3 linked regions of the Homo sapiens genome follow. The protein of the gene in region 1 binds, or shares a complex with, the protein of each later gene. Each region holds a gene or a part of one and is shown in the gene's direction. Other genes may lie near its edges. The genes, in order: TBL1X, ZYG11B and HDAC3.

What was found.
Region 2: TBL1X (region 1) and ZYG11B share a complex: the UniProt entries of both Homo sapiens proteins name them as parts of the E3 ubiquitin ligase complex.
Region 3: TBL1X (region 1) and HDAC3 share a complex: the UniProt entries of both Homo sapiens proteins name them as parts of the N-Cor repressor complex.

The regions. Positions count from the first base shown.
Region 1 is NC_000023.11:9,705,974-9,709,720, forward strand, and holds part of TBL1X (F-box-like/WD repeat-containing protein TBL1X), read left to right. Parts: intron 1-3,274; coding exon 3,275-3,349; intron 3,350-3,659; coding exon 3,660-3,747. UniProt on the Homo sapiens protein: F-box-like protein involved in the recruitment of the ubiquitin/19S proteasome complex to nuclear receptor-regulated transcription units. Plays an essential role in transcription activation mediated by nuclear receptors.
Region 2 is NC_000001.11:52,729,335-52,733,081, forward strand, and holds part of ZYG11B (protein zyg-11 homolog B), read left to right. Parts: intron 1-3,747. UniProt on the Homo sapiens protein: Serves as substrate adapter subunit in the E3 ubiquitin ligase complex ZYG11B-CUL2-Elongin BC. Acts to target substrates bearing N-terminal degrons for proteasomal degradation with the first four residues of substrates being the key recognition elements.
Region 3 is NC_000005.10:141,634,772-141,638,518, reverse strand, and holds the start of HDAC3 (histone deacetylase 3), read left to right. Parts: upstream 1-1,669; 5' UTR 1,670-1,728; coding exon 1,729-1,783; intron 1,784-1,888; coding exon 1,889-1,971; intron 1,972-3,565; coding exon 3,566-3,708; intron 3,709-3,747. Other genes in the region: RELL2 (RELT-like protein 2), read right to left, coding at 110-293. UniProt on the Homo sapiens protein: Histone deacetylase that catalyzes the deacetylation of lysine residues on the N-terminal part of the core histones (H2A, H2B, H3 and H4), and some other non-histone substrates.

The DNA.
Region 1 (3,747 bases):
CAGGAGCAGGCACCTCACATGGCCAGAGCAGGGGCAAGAGGTGGGAGGAGTGGGGGGGGTGTCACATACTTTTAAAGGACAAAAACTCACGAAGACAGCAAGCCACGAGGGATCTGCCCCCATGATCCGGACACCTCCCACGAGGCCCCACCTCTGCATCAGGGATGACAGTTCCACCTGAGATTTGGGTGGGGACACCGATCCTAAACCACATCCGTGGATTTACCAGCAGATGGGAGATTGCGGAAGTAAGGTTAGAGAGCATAGAAATTGGCCAATTTGAAGAACAGATAAAAGATCGAAAAAATGCATAAAGGCTTAATGGCTTATGGAACAATATCAGAGACCCTAAACCTATATGCGTGATGGGGAGAGAAGAAAGAATGGAACAGAAAAATCATTTGAGGCAGTAACAGCCAAGTTTTCCTAAATTTGGTGGAAAACATCAACATTTAATCCAAGAAGCTCAGCAAATTTCAAGCAGAACAAATATAAACAGAACCACACAAACAGAACAGACCATATCCACCTAGGCATATGGCCATCAAACACCAGAATCAATGACAGAGAAAATCCTAAAGGCAAGCAGAGGCTGACAAATCCATTATATACCAGGGAACAACAATGGGAACAACAGCTGACTTAGCAAATTCCTTAGTTTGGCCTCTGAGGCGCTTCCCGGTCTTTCACCAAATCTCCCTCAGATTAGCCAATTTCTATGGTCTCTAACCTTCTGCAATCTCCAGTCTGCTGGTAAACCCATTTACTAGCCTCGACCTCCTGGGCTAGTGTCCAAAAATTCCCTGTGCCTCTGTCCTCCTAAAGACACGTGCAGCCAAGCACCTTGCCCCGCGCTGAGCCCTGCCTGGAATGCTCCCTGCCTTAGACCCCCACAGCAGCTCTCGGTCCAAAACAGAATCCTCCCCAGTCTCCAGGCCCATTCACGTATCCTCTGCACGCCCTGGGGAGGATTCACGGCACCCCCTGAGCTCCTACTGCCCACATGAATGCCACAGCCCTGGCAGTAGCTGCTGGCCTGCGTGTCTGCCTCTCCCAGAAAACGCAGAGTGCATCAATGCTGGGACCATGGCATCTTGCCTTTCTCTCACCAGCACCCAGGATATCTCTGTGGTGGGGCAGGGTGGGGGTCCCTTGTTAAAGCAGGAGAGGATGGTCACAGTCCCTGGAGATTTGCCATTGTGCCACTAACTTAACTGATGTAAATTCCCTTGTCCTGATTCCCCTAATGCCCACCTCTCCCCACCCCTGGCCCAGGGGTCCCTGTCCCAAAGGAAGGCGCTTTTAGAGCACAGGCACCTATCGTCCTGTTAACATCTGTTTGGCTCCAAACTGACTCTCTTCTCCCGGTCTAAACTTATTTCTCCTCTAACCCTGGACTATCCACAAGTTTTTAATAGAGCTGTACACACTATCTGCAGTTCCCAGGTGTCCTGCCCAGGACCTTGCCACCAGCACAGGCCTTGGCCCTTTAAGTGGGTCTTAATGTGGCTGATGGCCCTGAACAAAGCTCCAGCTCAGTGGGGTTGAGTGGAGACCCATGAGCCGGCTCTGGAGGCGGCCCAGGAACCGGGGCTTGCATTGCAGAGCTAGGGATCCGCTCCCAGGAAGTTATTTGTTCCTTTGCATGGGCTTGGCTAGGGACAGCCAGTGGTGACCAGCTCTACATTCCTGGGCCCATGAGTTTTCCTCTGAACAGCTGCAGTCAGAGCCACCCTTGCTGGCCTTGCATACACATTCACACTCATAGACACCCATGCGTGTGCACACTCACAACCCTCAGCCCCCTCTCCAGTCGGCCCCCTCCACCCTCCCGGGCTCTCGCAGCAGCCTGCCCCTGGGCCGCGAAACTTCTTCCTCCTCCCTTTCCTGGGCCACGTGTGCCTCATGGAACACAGATGTGGCCTTGTCACTGTCCAGTTCACACCCTTCAAAACTCCATGTTCTTAGAAAGCAACCTGACCATACAGTTAATCCAAACCGGAGCCCTTAGGAGTATGAAATTTAGAAAATTCATTATGAGTGTGTCATTAGTTAATTGTTAGGCCGGGACAGCAGGTGTCACATGGTGGGACTGGACTGGACATATGGGGCCCTATAGTCACCCCTGAGGGAGCCCCAAGCTGGTACGCCATGTCCCCTCATTTCTCCTGGGTAGGCTGTTCCCCAGCTGAACCTTTGCCACAGGTGGTTCTTTTACACATGCCTGTCCCGGTAGTGTCCCCGTCTCCCTTGGCCCCTGGGTACATTCATTCACCTTTATCCTCCAGGGTTTAGCCTCGTGGTCCCCAGGTGTCCTGAGCCTGTGCTTTTCGCTACCTGGCTGTGCCGATCACGAGCCCCCAGCCAGGATTTTGCCTGTGTCATGTGTGTTTGTGCCACTCAGCATTTGCCTCTCACTTGTGTTGCACATGTGTGCCTGCCTGTGTGTGCATTTGGGTCGCCCATCTTCCACCTGGATCAGCCCTTACCCCGCTTGAACTCCGTAATAGGTGAGGGTTCACTTCTCATGTTTACCCCTCCCTCCGCCTCCACTCACCTGCAGGAGAGAAATACCTTCTAATGGGTGTGGACACTGGAGGAACTGTTACATTAAAAGTGCATAAGAGGCCTGGCATGGTGGCTCACGCCTGTAATCCCAGCACTTTGGGAGGTCGAGGTGGGAGGATCACTTGAGCCCAAGAGTTCAAGACCAGCTTGGGCAAAAATCCCAAAAAAAAAAAAAAAAAAAAAGGGCATGGTGGTGCCTGCCTGTAGTCCCAGCTACTTGGGAGGGTGAGGCAAGAGGATTGCTTGAGTTTAAGAGGTACATGCTGCAAGGACCTGTGATCCTGCCACTGCACTCCAGCCCGGGAGACAGAGTGAGACCCTGTCTGAAAAAGAAAAGTGCATAGGAAAGTGATTTTCAAAGGCCAATTTAAAAAGTAACTGGTTTTACTGGTTTTATTTGCTGCGTTTTATGGTATGTGATTTCTTCACTTGCCTTCCTTCCTAGCAGGGAAGGTTTTTTTCTTAATGAAGTATGGATGAGAGTGGCTGGTGTTGTGTGGTATAGGGCTGTGGTTTTATATAAATGAAAAAGGCAAAGTGAGAAAAAGAGGAAACTAGATGGCTGGTTGGGCTGTGCCCTTTGATGTCAGGCTGAAGCCGAAGACCTTCTGCAGCGCCGGTGGCGCGCTGCTGCCCCCTGCTGGAAGGTGACCTCATCTACTCACAGGCCCTGATGTCTTTTTCACACTCTTCTGCTCTCTTTCAGAACGAGGTCAACGCCATCAAATGGGATCCGTCTGGAATGTTGCTGGCATCCTGCTCGGATGACATGACATTGAAGGTAGAGTCGGCATGGCAAGGGGTGGGCTGTTTAATCCTAGACAACCCCGGGCACTTGATGCCAGTCTCACGGTCACTCTTACATGAGGATTATTTATTACTGACCACCCTCCCTTCCTCTGTCATCCGGTGAGCTACGATTTCTCAGTCATAGTCCCACTGAGAATCGCAGCCTCCCTGCAGCCTTTCTCACCACTGTGCACCCTCCACCCTGCCCTGGGCCCCGTGTGCACCCCCGGGAGGAATGATTCCACATCGTTCCCGGATGCAGGAATGGCTTTTGCTCATGTTGTGTCTGGTGTGTTCTGTAGATCTGGAGCATGAAACAGGAGGTGTGCATCCATGATCTTCAGGCTCACAATAAAGAGATCTACACCATCAAGTGGAGCCCCACTGGGC
Region 2 (3,747 bases), on another chromosome or scaffold:
CAGCAGACATATTAGGCATGATTATGTTTTAAACTTTGCATCTAATTAACTTGATTTTTCCTTGCTTGTTAAAACATATACACACAGAGTAACAGTGTATGTATGGGAGAGGTGAGGAGAAGGCAGAATATTAGCTTATTTTGAGCTAGGAATTATCAGTAGAGGCCACTTTCTCGTGCAATATTTTTGTAGATAATAAATACAGTTGAATGAATGATTATTATAAAGCTTTGTATTTTATATTTGTTAAATGTTAATTAGGTTGTGTTTGAATAGTTGAGATGTTTAAGATGTCAGGAGTTCGAGACCAGCCTGGCCAACATGGCAAAGCCTCGTCTCTACTAAAAATACAAAAATTAGCTGGGTGTGGTGGCACATGCCTGTAATCCCAGCTACTCGGGAGGCTGAGGTAGGAGAATCACTTGAACCCAGGAGGTGGAGGTTGCAGTGAACTGAGGGCAGGGCCTGAGAGGTGGCAGTTCTTTTTTTTTTGAGGCAGGGTCTTGCTCTGTCCCTAAGCTGAAGTGCAGTGGCATGATCACAGCTCACTGCAGCCTTGACTTCCCAGGCTCAAGCGATCCTCTCACCTCAGCCTCCCAAGTAGCTGGGACCACAGGTGCCCATCATCACACCTGGCTAATTTTTATATGTTTTGCAGAGATGGGGTTTCGCCATGTTGCCTAGGCTGGCCTCAAACTCCTGGGCTCCAGTGATCCTCCTGCCTCAGCCTCCCAGAGTGCTGGAATTATAGACGTGAACTACTACAAAAGTTTGCATTTCTGTCAAAACCCACATAATGCTGATGCTGCTGGTCTGTGAACCACAATTTGAGAACTACTGGTCTAAGACATAGTCCTTACTTTTAATTAATCTAATAATGTTTTTGGAGTGTCTTTGACTGTGTTGACACTGGGGAAATGACAGATAGTAAAATAGATGTGACCTCTGGCATTTTTCATCTCATGTATATAGAGTAATTTTATTTTATTATGTATTTATTTATTTATTTTGAGATAGGGTCTGGCTCTGCCGCCTAGACTGGAGTGCAGCGGCGTGATTACGGCTCATTGCAGCCTCAAACCCCTAGGCTCAAGCAGTCCTTCCAGCTCAGCCTCCCAAGTAAAGCTAGGACTTCAAGTGTGCTCTATTATGTGCAGCTGATTTTTTGTTTTTGTGTAGAGAAGAGATCTCCCTGTGTTGGCCAGGCTGGTACCAAACTTCTGGCCTCCAGGGATCTTCCCGCTTTGGCCTCCCAAAGTGCTGGGATTACAGGCACAAGCCACTGCATCCAGCCTTCATACAGTAATTTTAAATGTGAAGAGTTTTAATATATCTTGAGTGTGCTGAAAAAGGACAAGTTGATAGCTGGGCATGGTGGTGCATGCCTGTAGTACCATCTGCTCTAAAGCCTGAGGTGGGAGGCTCACTTGAGCCCAGCAGTTCAAGGCTGCATTGAGTTATGATCATGCCACTGCACTCCAGCCTGGGCAACAGAGCGAGACCTCATTAAAAAAAAAAAAAAATAGAAAGGAAAGAAAAGAGAAGTTGTGGAATAATGGAATGGAATAGTTAGGAGTAGCTTTGCAGAGGGTCTTACTTTCAAGTAGAGAACTGAGGGATTAAATTGTAGGAGTTATGTAAAGAATAGTCCAGATAGGCTGGGTGCAGTGGCTCATGCCTGTAATCCCAGCAGTTTGGGAGGCCGAGGTGGGTGAATCACCTGAGGTCAGGAGTTCAAGACCAGCCTGACCAATATGGAGAAACCCCGTCTCTACTAAAAATGCAAAAATAAGCTGTGCATGGTGGCAGGTGCCTGTAATCCCAGCTACTCGGGAGGCTGAGGCAGGAGAATTGCTTGAACCCGGGAGGTGGAGGCTGCAGTGTGAGCTGCGATTGTGCCACTGCACTCCAGCCTGGGCAACAGAGTGAGGCTCCATCTCAAAAAAAAAGAAAAAAAAAAAAAAGAGTCCAGACAGAAGGAGCAGCATGTGCAAATGACCTGTGGTGATACTCTCTCTTGCCTGCCTAACTCTAACATATCCTGGAGTTCTCCATTCAAGGAACTCAGGGAAACGCTGTCCAAAAAACCTAGGTCACTCTCCTCTTTATTATGTAGCACTTTTTCATAGAATACATAGCAACAGGAATTTTATATTTCTTACTGTAATTATTTGATTAGAGTCTCTTTCCATGTCCAGAATATAAAAATCATTGATAAAGAGATGATTTTTGACCAGCTCCTAAGGGCTAGGTGATGTTCTAGGCACTGTGATTACAGAAGTGAAAAAAAGACATGGGGTACAGGGAGGGGATACACAATAAATACACCTATAAATGTATAATGACAATAGTTATATAATAAATACTAAGAAAAAATAAACCAGGCTAAGATATAAAGTGATATTGTGTGTGTGTGAGAGGGCAACTATTTTAGATGGGATGGTTAAGCAGCAACACTAATAGCTTTTATTTATTTATTTATTTTTGAGACAGGATCTCACTCTGTCACCCAGGCTGGAGTTCAGTGGTGCAACCACGGCTTGCTGCAGTCTCGACCTCCCAGGCCCAAGCCATCCTCCCGCCTCATCCAACTCAAGCAGCTGGGACTACAGGCGTGCAGTACCACGCCAGGCTAATTTTTGTATTTCTGTAGAGATGGGGTTTCACCATGTTGCCCAGGCTGCTCTCAAACTCCTGGACTCACGTGATCTGCCCACTTTGGCTTCCCAAAGTCCTGGGATTACAGGCCTGAGCCATCGTGCCCAGCCTATTTTTTTCTTATGACAGTGACATTTTGAACTAAAAAGATGGAAGTTATTATTAGTATCAGTAAATGTGTTCTTGAAACTTGAAAAAGGATGTGTGTAGGGGAATCAATAAATAAATTGAAATCCCTTCCAAGCTTATGCTTTTGAACCATAAGTCTGAGCAGTCTCAGGCCAGTATGAATCAGAGTTATTCAGAAGCACAAGTGGAGAAATGTCCTACAATAGGAGGGAAATCTTACTAAATTTCCTTCTTGCTTAAAAGAAAATTATATCTTGTATACAGAGATTAAATATTAACACTAGTGGCATTCTGTATCTCCCCCTATTATTAGACATATAATTTATTAGCTGACTAAAATTCTAAATTAATAATTTGGCCGGGTGTGGTGGCTCACGCCTGTAATCCCAGCACTTTGGGAGGCCAAGGCAGACGGATCACGAGGTCAAGAGATTGAGACACTGTGATTACAGAGGTTAAAAAAAGACACCCCGTCTCTACTAAAAATAGAAAAACTAGCTGAGCGTGGTGGCACACACCAGTAGTCCCAACTACTCAGGAGTCTGAGGCAGGAGAATCGCTTGAACCCGGGAGGCAGAGGTTGCAGTGAGCCGAGATTGTGCCACTGCACTCCAGCCTGGCGACAGAGCAAGACTCTGTCTCAAAAAAAAAAGGCCACCCTGGCCAATGTGGTGAAACCCTGTCTCTACTAAAAATACAAAAATTAGCCGAGCGTGGTGGCGGGTGCCTGTAATCCCAGCTACTCCGGAGGCTGAGGCAGGAGAATCACTTGAACCCGGGGGGCGCGGAGGTTGCAGTAAGCTGAGATCGAGCCATTGCACTCCAGCCTGGGCAAAAAGAGTGAAACTCCATCTCAAAAAAAAAAAATTATTAACCCAACATAGGAGGTTATTTTCCTTAGATAAAGCTCATGCGTGGAAGCAATTGTATACAAAGACAGAATTATTTCCTATTTCAGTA
Region 3 (3,747 bases), on another chromosome or scaffold:
CCTGAGCAGGTTTGATCAGGATTTGGCCTGGGTCTGTTGGTCAGGGAGGCAGAGGTGTGGGGAGAAGGGTGAAAGGTGACTGAGCCAGGGTTCCAGGCTCCTCACTCACGGGGCTGAAGCTGGGCATCGTCAGGCTCAGAGCCCCTCGACGTGCGGCAGCGGTAGCCCTTCTTCTTGAGCACGTGGCAGATCATGAAGCCTACCAGGCCCATGAGGAAGAAGACCAGCACAAGCAGGAAGAGCATATATAGCCCATGTTGGGGCGGTTCCAGGTCAGGCTGTGGTTCCGACATGAGGCCCTGGGGGGCGAGCGCGGGCCAGGGCGCCTCCTGGGTTTAGGGGGCTGCAGCTGGGAATGGGGGAGGGGTAGGAATGCCGTCCTCAGGATCTGAAACAAGCACGTCTAAGACGTCCGGCTGAGGTCCGGCCCCACCCCCTACCCAACCAGGGAGCTGTCCGGGCCAGGAGTGCTGTTTCGCCTTTCGGCAAGAGGTCAGCGGCAACGCAAGCTCTCTACCACGACCCTGGTCCCGCTTCCCCGACGCCCCGAGCGTTCCCCTTTCCAGCTTGTTCGCGCTTCTGTCCCTCCCAAGGACACTGCAGCACGAGATGGGACGGCATTCTTAGGCGGCGGGAGCAGAAATCCTGCCTGAGTCAGCGCCCGCACCTCCTCCACGCCGGCCTGAGCCAGGCCTCTGCAGCCCCTTCCTCTCAGTACTCCCGCACCCCTCTCCCTTTTTGGTTTCTCCCACCCTGACCACCTGGCCGACCCGGTACCGGTGATTTGGTTCTGGTTCCGGCTTCTGCTGGGGTTCCGGCTCCAGGGGCGTCCTAGTGCGGCTCAGGGCCCCCGACGCCCTTCCGGCGCTCATCCCTTGATTCCTCCCCTCCCCCTTCGCCGCCTCACCGGCCCCGGGCTGTGGCTGCGGATACCCGCGCCGTGGCAGGCGGGGGGAGGGAAGAACAGAGAAGGATGCGGGCTGGCTGAGAGCGGTGGCAGGCTCCGGGCAACTCCGGCCCTGGGTCAGGGAGATCGCCTCCGCAGCCGCCCTGGCTTCCCAAATGCCTTCACCCGTCGCGGGCCCAGGACCAGGGGGCGGAGCGCAGGTGTGCGGGGCGGAGAGCGTGAGCTCTGCGCGCGCGTGACTGCGCCGGGCCCCCCCGGGGCAATGTGCGGCGCCGAGTCTGGGTCCGGGTAGGGGACAGGCGGTCCGGCGTGGGTGTTGTCCACTGGTCTATCCGGTACGCCTGGCGCAGCTCCTGCCCTCAGATGCCCCGACCGAGCGGAGAGTCAGGAATCTTCTCCGAGGGCTGGGGGAAGCCGGCTTTCCGCACCTTTGAGGGACGGAGTGGCGGGATCTTCGGAGCTTCCTAGAGAAGTGACCACGGCCTGCGCCCGGTTTGGGGCAAGCGGCTGGATGGGATGGCTCGGCTTCCCGAGGATCTGACCCCCGGCCGGAGACAAATGGCCCTCGCATCCTAGGAGCTATGCTGCCAGTTCCCTGCCCAACCCGGGACGCTCAAAGCCCCAGATACCGGGAGAGCTGAGCCGGGCGAGGGGCGGAGCTCCCCTGGGGGCGTGGCCTGGGTGTGGATGGAGGCGGGGCCGCAACGCCCAGTTCCGCAGAGGCCGGCTACGTGCTTGCGCAGCACGCACGGCCGGGGAGGGGCTGGCGGCGGCCGCGGGCGGCGGGCGGCGGAGGTGCGGGGCCTGCTCCCGCCGGCACCATGGCCAAGACCGTGGCCTATTTCTACGACCCCGACGTGGGCAACTTCCACTACGGTGAGGAAACAGGGATATGCATGAGGGGTTGGGACACGGAGGTTTTGAGGCGGGGTTGCAACTCCAGGGGTGAGAGCTGACGAACTCTCTTCTCCCCACCCCCAGGAGCTGGACACCCTATGAAGCCCCATCGCCTGGCATTGACCCATAGCCTGGTCCTGCATTACGGTCTCTATAAGAAGATGATCGTGAGTTCCGCCGCCTCGGCCGGGGGTTGGGGGGTGGGGCGAGCTGTGGCCGTAGGGATAGGTGGGCTGGACTGAGTGCATGAAGTGCGACCCGCCCCTAGAGTATCGGGGAGCTGGATAGAAGTCACCAGGAGTACCTTGAAAGTGCAGGGTGTTGGGGGTGGCGTCCTCTGCTTAATGGAAAGTACTTTCTCACCTCAGGTCGGCCACCCTCTGACTGTAGGCACACTAGCCCTTGGCCTAGGGTTAGCGTGATGTGGGGCTGGTTTGAAGACAGAAGGTGTGTTCCTCCTCTGCATTTTAGAGTGTGGATAGGGCCTTGGCCTCAGGAATTAGGGTTAGGGGAGCGGATATCACTGTATCAGGGTGTGAGGTTTACCCTCAGTTCCCACTCCTCTTTTACCACCTTTCTTTACCTCCAAGGAGCTAGGGCTCCAGGGTGGAACGATGCTGCCGTCTTTGTAAATGTGTATGTGCGTGTGGAACAGAGGCGATATTTTAGATATTCCTTTTTCAGCCTGGAATACCTCTACATGGTTCTGCTTAATCGCTATCCAGTTTTTCATCTACCAGACATACACATGCTGTCTTCCCAGCTTGGAATTTATGGCTGTGATATGGGATAGTAACAGTTAAGCCACGCCAGGCGTGGTGGCCCATGCCTGTAATCCCAGCACTTTGGGAGGTTGAAATGGGGGGGATCGCTTGAGGCCAGGAGTTGGAGACCAGCTTGGGCCACAGTGGGACCCACATCTACAAAAAATAAAAATAAAAAAAGTAGCCATGTGCGGTGGGTGTGCCTGTAGTCCCAACTACTTGGGAGGCCGAGGCGAGAGGATGGCTTGGGCCCAGGAGTTTAAAGTTACAGTGATCTATGATCAGCAGCCTGAGTTGACAGGGAGGACCTTGTCTCAAAAGAAAAAATAAGACAAAACAGCTAAACCCAGGCTTTATGTGTTGCTAGGGAAACTAGTGAACAATATGAATGAATGTTCATTGCTTGTGCCAAGGCACAGACAAATGGACTGGTCATAGAAAAGACTGAGGTGATGTTAGTGCAGGAATCTATATCCCTTGAGATTGTTTGCCTGTATGTACCTGTGTGCATTTTCTGGGAGAAGAAAAGCTCTTTCTTGTGCAGTTTTCAAAGAGGTGTGACACATCCCCCTGACCTTCCAAAGATAATAAATCTTTGATTTTAATTAGAAAGTTGACATATATCCCATATATTTGACTCCAGAAAGAAGAATCCAGAGGAAAGAGGACAGAATCAGAGCTTGGGGGAGGAGATGAGCATGGAGAGAACTGGGAATAGGAGATTCCAAGGAACAGGGCAGGTGGATCAGGGCTCAAAGTTGAGAAGGTACGATAGGCTGAGCTGGAGGTGGAAAGGAAAAGAAGTGGTCTTCAGGGGGCTCATTTGTAATAACTTACCTGGTTAATCGGAGTCTCTCTACTGACTTAAGGATTGTGGGATGAGGGGAATGCTATGTTTGGCTTCATATAGTCTCCAGGACTGGGTTCAGTATGGGTGGTCTGAGCCTGTGGAGTGGGGCTGACCCTGCCTGGGTTCATCTTGTGTCTCCATCCCGAGGTCTTCAAGCCATACCAGGCCTCCCAACATGACATGTGCCGCTTCCACTCCGAGGACTACATTGACTTCCTGCAGAGAGTCAGCCCCACCAATATGCAAGGCTTCACCAAGAGTCTTAATGCCTTCAACGTAGGCGATGACTGGTGAGGGAGGACTGGGAGTTTTGATGTCTAACAGTTTAA